Regions from separate parts of the Homo sapiens genome. Here region 1 is linked to region 2. Evidence: fine-mapped expression QTL. A gene starts in region 2. The other region holds a variant in brackets. All regions are shown on one strand. Distances are from middle to middle.

Region 1 (5,374 bases), 96 kb after region 2:
TTTTAAATTTCGGTTTCTTCTCTATGTGACAAGCAGGCTGGGCCTCGTCCGGCTCTGTGACAGGCAGGAGTGCAGCTTCTGGAGCCCGGAGCATGAACACCACAGCGAGGCCCAGGCTGCAGTCCCTGCCCTCATTTAATCTGTGACCTCACGGACTCGTCTCCAAACCATAATTGAATTCCCATTTGATCTGTTTGACCTCAGCCTCCCACAGTGCCAATTCCCTGGTGGACAGGGTGTGCTCTGAGAACTCTCCAGGCTGCAGGGGTTGCCACCTGCGCCCTCTCGGGCAGAACGTGGCCTCCAGACAAATCTTATTTGGCCTAGCCAGGGTTGAAAAACGCTTTTGAACGTGGATGCCTTTGGATGCTGTATTTGTTCCCTGGGGCTGCCGTAACAAAGTACCACAAACTGGGTGGAGTAAACAACTGAAATTGTCTCGTGCTTCTGGAGGCTGGAAGTCTGAGATCAAGGCATGGGCAGACTTGGTTTCTTCTGAGGGCTGTAGGGGATGGATCTATTCTGTGCCTCTCTCCTTGGCTTGTAGATGGCCATCTTCTCCCTGTATCTTCACACTGTCTTCCTTCTGTACACGTCTGTGCTTGAATTTCCCTTTTTTATAAGGACATTAGTCACACTGGATCGGGGCCCACTGTAATGACCTCACGTTAACTTGATTATCCCTGTAAAGTCCCCATCTTCAAATAAGGTTGCATTCTGAGATACCAGGGGTTAGGACTTCAGCATGTGAATTTTGGGGGGGTGTAATTCAGTCCATAACAGATGCCATGGCACTTCGTTTTGCCATGGTACCATCCATTTGTGAGTATCTTACACCGGCGCTTCTCCTCTCACTTGTTTACATGCCCTCCTGGCTCCTGTATATCTTTTTTGGGGGATGGAGTCTCACTCACTCTGTCGCCAGGCTGCAATTTCTGCTCACTGCAACCTCTGCGTCCTGGGTTCAAGCAATTCTCCTTCCTCAGCCTCCCAAGTAGCTGGAACTACAGGCGTGCACCACCAAGCCCGGCTAATTATTGTATTTTTAGTAGACATGGGGTTTCACTATGTTGGCCAGTCTGGCCTCAAGTGATCCACCTGCCTCAAACTCCTGGGCTCAAGTGATCCGCCCGCCTTGGCCTCCCAAAATGCTGGGATTACAGGTGTGAGCCACCATGTCTGGCCTCCTGTGTGCTTTTGGATGGTGACTCCTCCCTTGTTAGTTTATAGTTCATTCATTCATTTGTTCAATCATTCATCCTCATAAGATTGTTGAAAAAAATGAAATAATTTATTTCCATGTTAGCTTAATATCTGGCATATATAGGTATTCAGCAGCATTTATTTATTTATTCATTTACCCATATTTATCAAGCAAACATCCACCAAATGCCAGGAATGCAGCAAAGCCAGACAAGGTCACTCCCCCGATGGAGTGTATAGTGAGGTAGGGGAGAGACTCGATCCAGTGTTCACAGTGTAAATGTATGAACCAACTGTGATAAGTGCTCTGAGCTGCAAGGGGCAGCGGGAGGCCAGGCCATATGGAGCCTGCAGCCCGTGGGAAGGCATCTGAGCTTCTTTGGAATGTATCAGATGGTCAAACTGATAACTTATCAGCAAAGGGTGACACTCTCAGGGTAGCACTGGGGCAATCAGGTTGGAAGTGGGCAAGAAGGGATTCTGGAGATCTCAGGGAGGCTGCTGCAGGTGCCCCAAGAGAGAGATGGGAGCTTGGTCTCGAAGGGAGTGGAGAAGATGGAGAGGGGTGGATGGCTTTGAGAAATTAGGGGTAGATTGGCAGGACGTGCAGATGGGAGGGAGGTGCCAGGGATGGACAGGCTTACAGATGTGGCTGGGCGGTGTGGCTTCTCACTGAGAGAAGCAAGAGGATCCAGTTTATAGGTACATGTTGAATCTGAGGAGTCTGAACTTGATAAAACATGGAGCGTCACTGTCAATCATCTACTCCTTCATTCGACAATCATTTATGGGGCACTTGGACATGGGCAAGAGTGGTGTTAGATGTCAGGAATACTGCAGGAAGCAATGCAAACTGCCTTATGCGATGGACATTCTAACGAGGAGACAGACAGTAAATAAGTAAGCAAATAGATAAGACTATTACAGAGTATGATAAGAAAATAACGCCAGGTGAGGGGCTAAGGAGTGATTGGGGGTAAAAAGGGTGGGCTAATTAAGTTGGGGTGGACAAGAAAGGCTACTGTGAAGGGCTGCCATTTGAGCGGAAGCGTGAATGGTGAGAAAGAGCTGGATATGGAAGAGATAGGGGACAGTCATCTCAGGTAGGGGGCATAGCATGTGCAAAGGCCCAGAGGCAGGAACGGCTCAAAATGGGGTTGGTGTGAGAATCAGGGACCAGAATGTGCGCGTACTTACAGGCTAAAGTAAGGCATTCACACCTTTCCCCAGGTCCATTTAAGAAGGAAAGCCATGTAAGAAAGGCCTTAAGCCAGGGAGTGACAGCGTCTGCTTTCCTCGTTACAAAGATCAGCTCGATTTTGAGAAAAGACAAGATGGAATTTTAGGGACCTTGCCCATACCTTTCTCTTTTTGCTTAACTTGGTTCGAATTGAGTTTTTGTCTCTTGCACCCCAAGAGTTTTGATGAGCACATTTGGGAAGAAAAACCTTTCTGGTGGGACGTGTGTCAAGATCCAAGATTCACAGAAAGTCAGAGCTGGGTGGGGCCTCCGGGATGGGCTAGGTCAGGAGTATCGTGACTGCTCCCTACGGAGACTGAGGGGCGCCAAGACCCAGGCCTCTTTTGTCTGGAACAGCTGCTCTTTCATTGGTTTTGCACACACAGAGA[C/T]CTGCGAGCGCTTTCATCAGTGCTTTCCTTGACTGACAATGTCTGGAAACCACTGAGACAAGTTTATGCCACTGCTTTATACATGGGGAAACTGGGGCTCAGGGAGATTAGGCCACACGGCCGGGAAGAGGTCAGACGTGGCTGTGCCACTCCTAACTCAGTGCCCTTGGCAGTGGAGAAGGCTGCCTGCCTCCAAGGCTGGAACTGGGCAGTTTGCTGTGAGGGCAGAAGGTTCTTCCTTTCTTTCCTGGATGTGGCCAGAGAGGGGCCTGAAGGAGCTGCAGCTTTGTGATCCACCTCTTCCAGGACATGCGGGGAGCCACGGGGCCAATTCACAGGCTGGGACAGATCATGCATAAATAGAAGAAGGCAGGCCCTGGAGCTGAGCTGCCTTCTGGGGTTCCGCACATGATTGTCACTTACCCAGCCTCCTCTGAGGACTCAGGACCTCAGAGTCCTCGGGACAATGGACCATGCACTGTGGCCCAAAATAGGGTTTCGGGCACAAGCTTTGGAAGTAGAGCTGGGTTCAAGTCCCAGATCTTCCCCACATCTAGCTGTGGACACATTATTTACATTCTCTGAGTGGCAGTTTCCTCGGCTGAGAGAGAACGCATAGCAGCCTCCCAGCAATGTGGTGAGAACTAAATGAAGCACTTAGCACATCAAGCACTGAGCATGGTGCTTGGTACCTGGTCAGCGCCCAATACGTGGCTGTTCTTCTATTATAATAATTTAAGAATGATCACTATTTTCGTTCCAAGTTCCACACTGCACAGTAGGGGACAGGAGGCTGAGGAAGGCAGAGCCTGAAGGAGTCTGAACTGGGCGCTGGTTTGTCAATTGGCATGAAAATCCCACCTCATAGTAAATTTCCGATGGAAACGAAGCGTGAGAGTTCAGTGTTTTCCCACTTAATGGAATTGTGACTTTTCTTCTAGCCACGGTTCTTTGTCCTGAGTAAAGTTGTAGCAAAGGCTGTCACTGTTCGCACTTCTTTGTTTTATTTTTACTTGTGTGAAGAGCAATCAAAATAAATAAATCGGCTGTGTGATTTCAAGTAACTAAAACAGAAGCCAAAAATTGAGGGAGAAAAAAACCCCAACAAACCAAAACAAAACCAATCAAAATTTGCTTCTTCAGTGGCCCAAATGCCTCTTCTGAGTTTAGGCACCCGGGGGTTTGTCTGCTCCGGAGAACAGACACACCAATTGCATGGTGTTCCCAAGGCTTAGAGGAGCAGACTGAACAGTCAAATGCATTTTTGCTCTTCCAGCAATTTCAAAAACAAATAATTATAAACCTAACATTTTTTGAACTATTTATCATGTGCCAGGTGCTATAAATGTGTGTTTTACATGCATTCTGTCCATTAGTTCCTCCAAAAGCTAAGGATTAGTATCATTCCCTTTTACAGGTGAAGAAACTAAGGCTGAAAGAGGGCAATTAACTTGCTTATGGCCACGCAGCTGGTAAAGATCCCGGGAGACTCAGGATGCAGGGTAGGGCAGATTGCTCCAGAAAAGATGCTGAAATTCCTTCTGGAGACTCTGCTGGGTGGGGGTTGAAATATGGTGGTTGAGCCCTTCTGTGTTCCTAGGGCATCTTGGGAAGAATATAGAGTGGCCACGGCTCAGAGGACCCACTTCCTGACAGACTGTTTACTTCCAAGAGTAGTGGCCTCCCTCAATGGAAGAACCCCTAGACTTTCAAAGTGTGTTAGTCAGATTTTGCACTGTGATATGCTGCATGACAAGCACCCCCACAAAATCTCAGGGGCTCACAACCAACACTCTTTCTTTGTCTTGCTCTTGGGTCTGTGGGTCATCTGGGGGTAGATCTGCTCTAGGCTTTGGGTTAGGATCAGGAATGTTCCATGTGCTTCATTCTGGAATCAGAGGTTTCACAGAGGATGTCTTATGGGGAATGGCAGAAGTACAAAAGACCCAGCCAAACCAGCAAGCACATTTAAAACCTCTGCTCACCTCACATTCACTTACATTCTGTTGGCCAAAAGAAGCCAAGCATTCCATCACTGTACAAAGCAGATGCACAACCCACTTCCTCTGCAGTCCCATCTCCACACAATGGCAGCTTACTGCAAGACCACCTTGCCTTAAAAACTTTTGCCTCTTCTTTCCATGAGAATGAGGTTGGAAATTTTCCCAAAACAAAACAAAACAAAAAAAAGAAAAAAAGAAAAAAACTTTACTAAAGACTAAAGGGAGAAACACAGAGAGGCTGTAGGGGATGTCCACCAGTTCTGCTTGTGAAGCCTCCATTCAGCTGGTAATTCCCAATCTCCTCTTAGAGAATCACCTCTCCTCATTCTCGGTCCCTGTGATTTGAGGGTGAGAGGTTACTGCCCTGGCCTGCCAACGTCAGGGGTGGACACCTGATCCATTCCTGGCCAATGGAAATACTGCTGCAAATCCTTGTCCATATGACTGTCTCTGGGCTGGTCATCTCACCCAAACTGGGCCAGTGACTTATACTAGGGCTATTAGAACAGGGATTCACATTTCTGGTGAGTCTGTGAAGC
Region 2 (5,374 bases):
ACTGGTCCAAGATGACATCTTAGAGGAAAATTAGTTCCCCACCCAGCTCAGCCTCTAAACCCCACTCCAGAATCACAGTACGCTCTGCCTAGAGCCACAGCACTCTGGAGCACACTGTACCAGAAATAGTCCCATTTGACTCATACAACTACAAGGAGACTTTCAATAGATATTTGCCTCCAACATCTGAATGAAATTAGAGCCTCTAAAGTTACAACCACATGGTGATCCTTGGGTCTGATAAGTTCCTAGAGATAGTTCTCTACTCTGAAATTGTTTTTCTTAAACACATTTTTTTGATTTTTTGGTTTTTTTTTTTTTAGACGGAGTCCTGCTCTGTCGCCCAGGCTGGAGTGCAATGGTGCAATCTTGGCTCACTGCAACCTCCGTCTCCCTGGTTCCAACAATTCTCCTGCCTCAGCCTACCGAGTAGCTGGGATTACAGGCGCCCATCACCACGCCCGGCTATTTTTTTTTTATTTTTAGTAGAGACAGGGTTTCACCATGTTGGCCAGGCTGGTCTCGAACTCCTGACCTCAGGTGATCCACCCACTCGGCCTCCCAAACTGCTGGGATTACAGGTGTGAGCCACCGTGCCTGGCCCTTCTTAAACACATTTTTAAAAACTTTTTCTTTTTTGAAAAGATAACACAAGACAAAGATACAAAACGACATACTAAAACAGTCAACCTCCTATGGATAAATTACAGTGTATTTGCAATGGAATTCTACACACTTAAGCAAACAAAAATGAACTATTGATGTAGGCAACAACGTGGATGGATATCACAAATATGCTGAGCGAAAGGTGCCAGCCAGACACAAGAGTACAGACCATATGACCCCTGCATATGACCTTAAAGAACAGGCAAAACTAATCTTTGGTGACAGAAGTCGGAATTGTGGTTACCTAAGTGAGGGATGACTCATTGGGAGGATAAAATGTTTTATTGTTCTAATGGTGGAAAGAGGGGTGTAGATGTATGCACTAAGCTGCAGTGTGAAAATTTGTGTATTTTATTCTATGTATAGAATAATAACAAAGTCTCCTTTCCACTACTATGGCTCCCAGCTACCTCCCCGGAGGCCACTCTTCCAGTGAGGATTTCTTAGTGCCCCGTTTCTGTCACGACCTTCATGCCAGGGGCAGAGTCCTGGGAGCATGCCAGGGAGACACCAGAGGCCAAGGCTGCTCCATGGCGCAGCTGCACTGGGCCATGGCTTGTGTACGTACCCTTTGGCTTTCTACGGCCCTTTTACCCCTAGAACGCTATCCCTCTCTCTTCCTCTTCCTTCTTTCATCCCTCCCCTAAGGAGGCAGCTGTGGCATTGAGGCCTTGAGAGGTTGCTGACCCTTGCTAAACAGTGTTGCTTCTCCTGGCCCTCCTGGGTGCGCCTGCCTGGAGAGGACACTGCGTGCTGATCAAACTTATTGTTGACACATTCATTCTCTCTTTTATTCTCTCCCTTCTGATCCCTGGACTGATCTCTAGGAATTTCTGCTCCCTGGGTGCTCAGTCTCAGTGAGCTTCCCTGGTGGCAAGCCCTGATATGCTTCCCTTCCATGGGGCAGTCCTGATAACAACCTATTTTATATTTGCATATAAACCTGGCTGAGGGTCTGTCTTAACTCCAATCCCCCCACCCCCGGGCCCCAACTCCTAGCAGCATTCTAAGACTCCGTCCCTCCCCTAACCTGGGGCTTCAGCACAGCCGCGTCTGTGTCTTTTATCATCTGGGGTCGTCCTCCTACCAGATCTCCCTGCCTGAGGACAGAGGGTCCTGAGTCACGTTCAAGTCAATTTGGCAAGCGTTTTTGGAGCAGGGCAGAAAGTGAAGGGCACTACCCTGTTCCTCGACTTCAAAAATCGAACGCGGGGGAAATGGTGCACAATTCAGGCCCAGTTATAATAGCTCCTAATACCCAATATCTTGTTTTGGTCCTTCGTGAATACCAGGCATCCATCAGCGAACCTTCCATGCCTGATTTCTCCGAATATTCAAAACAACCCTGGGAGGATGAGCCCCATTTTGGAGATGAAGGAGCTGAGGCACGAGGTTTTAATGCGGGCATGTGGTCGCCAGAATTTGAATAGCAACTTCCCTAAGGAAACGCCCTATTTAGACTCTAGGGGAGAGGAGGATCCCAGGAGGAGTCCGCCAGCAGAAGCTCAGAGTCTGGCCTGGGGGCATTTAGTTATGCCACGCCCTTTCTCTACTGTTCCCTCCCGCGACAGGGGCCTGACAGGGAGTGGGGCTTCGGGCCAGCGTCTCGGCCGGACGCAGGGACTTCAGAAGAGGCAAATACAAAGCTCCGCATGGCAGAGGAACAGAGGGGCGCGGGGGAACGCGGTCCAAAGGTGGACCTTGTCGGCCCCTGGGCACTGCAAGCCTCGAGGCGCTGCGAGCGGTGAGGCTGTTGCAAGCTCCCGCGGCGCGCGCAAACTGCGTGGAACTACTTCCCCGGGGCGGCTTCGGGGCCGGGGTCCCGGCAACAGCCTCACGGGGCGCCGTGCGGGGCCCGAAGCCAGTTGCCAGCTCCCGGGCGCGGCCACGTGCGCCCCGCCGGGCTTGCACGCTCCGCCGCGCCGGGCCGCGGGGCCACCGACAGGCACGCGCGCCCCCAGCGCGCACACACTCCCGGGCACGCACACCGACCGCCCGGCCCACGTCCGCCACGCCCCGCCTTCCCCCGCGCCCCGCCTCCGCCCTCGCGGCGCCGGCCGCCGCCCTCCCATTGGCCGCACGGCGCGTGACGCGCGGCGCCAGGCCCCGCCCCTCGTCAGTCACTCGGCGGAGGCGGCGCTGGCGGGGACTAGTCTCGTCCGGAGACTGTGATGGATTTAACCAGGTGGGGAGGGAGGGAGGGCGCGAGCTTGGGAGTGGAGAGGGAAGGAGCCGGCCCACTCCCCGTCGCCGGCCTCGGGCTGCCCCTGCGCGCCCCCTCCAGATCCGGCCCGCGGCTCCCCTCCCGGCCCCCCCAGCCCCACGCTCAAGTCCACAAGTCCGCCCGCTTCCTGCGCCCGCCGCGGCCCTTCCCGGGGCGCCGCCGCCACCGCCTGGTGTGCGAGGCTATCCGGCCCGGGCCCGGGGCTTGCAGGGTGCCAGTGGGGGCGCCCGGTTCCCTTCCTCGCTCTCTCTTCCAGTCCCCGGAAAGGGTGGGTGGGTGGTCTCCCGAGCGAAGTTTCCAGCACTGGATTCCTGCGAAATTACGACGGCTCACCCGCGTCTGTGTTTTGCTGTCTCTCCCCCGTTTTCCTGCTCCCTGCCTCTTCCCTCCCTTTTCCCCCACTCTCCACTCCTCGGAAGGCCAAAAAGACAAGCGAAACCTGCCGCAGACGAAGGGTTTTGGGATTGTAGCGTCTGCACCTTCAGAAACAGTGCTGAAGCCTTTAAATGCAGCATCTGCGATGTGAGGAAAGGCACCTCCACCAGGTACTTGAAGATCTGTGTTACCTTTTGTTAAAGGACTTTTTTTTTTTTTTTTTAAGTGAGAGGGTAGTGAGCCTTACTTTCTGCCCTTTTTCCAACTTGTTGATTACGGCTTTTTTTGTATTTGCGGGTGGGTTGTGTGTGTTTTTGGGTTGAGTGTATTAAGTGTTGGGTGAAAAGCCTTGTGTTCGCTAAATGATTTATGGGAGGGAATTTTTCCAGGTTTTCATTTTATTTCAAACGGACACTGGATTTATTTGACACTTGTGTCTATTGGCTTATTGGTATTGGCTGGGGAAGAGAGGAAGCAGTACTATCGCTATGGATTGTAGGACATAGATGTTTTATATTTTTGCCATGTGTAGAATGGTTTTAATTTGCCTGTCCCGAGTTACTTTTCTCTTGTCTGAGAAATTTAGTGGGGGTAGTAAGGCTGGCTGTGCTTTTCCTGTCTTGAGCTGCAAATGTCTGTTACTTTCTTGCACTTGAAAATAAATGTCGGTATTTGATAAAGTAAGTGCATTTTGTGGGAGACTGAGCTGTCAGTTTTTTTTTTCTTTGACTAGCTTATGTGGGGTGGTGATGGGGGACGATTTTGTAAAATGGTGAAATGAGCAGTGACTGTGGAAGTTTGTGTTTAAAGCTCTGTGATGATGAAAAGAATGTTGAAAGAATTCCTTTTCATTTTGATGAAGGTCGTAAACTGCATGTGATGTTAAAACGAGTTAACTACTTTAGATTTAACATTCATAAATACTTGGATAAAATGTCAAGACTCATGTAGTCTTTTGGTCATCTTTTAATTTATGTCTGAATTTGTTTCATTGGCGTTAGAGTTTGAAGTTAAACTGTTCTTGGTGTCATTTAATGAACAGGCATTGGGTGTGTGTGTGAGACAAGAATGAGTTTTTGGTGGATCCTTTAGAACATTACAGTTGATTGCCAAAAGTCTCATTTTATCAGGTACTTATTTTTGAATTGGTGACATTTCAGTGTGACTGTGTAGTAGTACTTCACAGTTCCAACTGGATATTGTTCTTTGATTAGATGAATATGTCATGTTAAGGTTTCATTGGTTTATTTATACTTGGGATTAAATAGGATTATTGGGCAACCTAAAATAATCTAACTCTGAGATTAATTGGCCTAATTATTGTTTCTGTGAATTGCACTCTTTAAATGATGATACCTTTGAATAAAAATAATCAAAAACTAAAAATATTACTCCATACGTTGTTTTAAGAAATTTTTGTCGGTGTTTTGTATTATCATGGAATATATCTAAAGTAAAAAACACGCATCAGTAGTTTCATAGATTTTGTTTTGCTGTCTAAAATAGGGAATTCCATCAAATGGCATGAAAGTTTTTAGAAATGTATTTGTTATTTAAAGCAGTAGTGATTGTATATTATTTATGAGTAATGTTTTTTACATGTAGAAGCCCTCAGAGGCCAAACCTCTTTATTGTGGTTTTGCTTTGAGTGTTACCGTAGATGGTGTTCAAGTAAATGATTAGGAAACTCCTAAGAACTTGAGAACATTACTGGTGAAGAGAAACGTAAACCAAATTCAAAAGTTTATGTCTGATTTATCGCTGGGAATGATTATCTCATAATGAAGTGCATTTCAGCTTTTAACATGTATTTTAAAAAACCTTACTCATCAATTTTTCGGAAGCACATGGAAGGTGTTGACTTTTAAAAAAGGTATGTATGTATGTTTAAAGTTTTTTCAGAGCCGCAGATGACTGTTGAAACTTAGTTAAAACTACTGAATTATTTACAGTGAAAATATTTTAGAGTCTATTCAGGAACAGGGAAAGGCGTCTACTTTAAGGGTCTTCGAGTAATTTTCTGATGTCATTTAATAGAATTTGAATACAGATTTAACAGGTGTGAGGACTGAAAACTGTGTGCATTCATGACACTCTTAGCTGGCCACA

What was found. PIP is the estimated chance that this variant, and not a neighbour inherited with it, causes the effect. A credible set is the group of variants that fine-mapping cannot tell apart.
Region 1: its variant is the best candidate, but not a certain one, in a credible set for the expression of RYBP in whole blood (INTERVAL, PIP 0.62).

What each region holds. Positions count from the first base shown.
Region 1 is chr3:72,348,689-72,354,062 of GRCh38, reverse strand. No RefSeq gene overlaps it. Among named protein-coding and RNA genes, the nearest start is that of RYBP, 95 kb to the left of the region's middle. The variant C/T (reference allele first, on the strand shown) is at 2,833.
Region 2 is chr3:72,444,557-72,449,930 of GRCh38, reverse strand. It overlaps RYBP (RING1 and YY1 binding protein), which reads left to right and starts at 3,308. Exons shown (of 4, transcript NM_012234.7): 1 at 3,308-3,435. The coding sequence starts at 3,308. RefSeq lists silencers at 2,462-2,871, 2,932-2,991.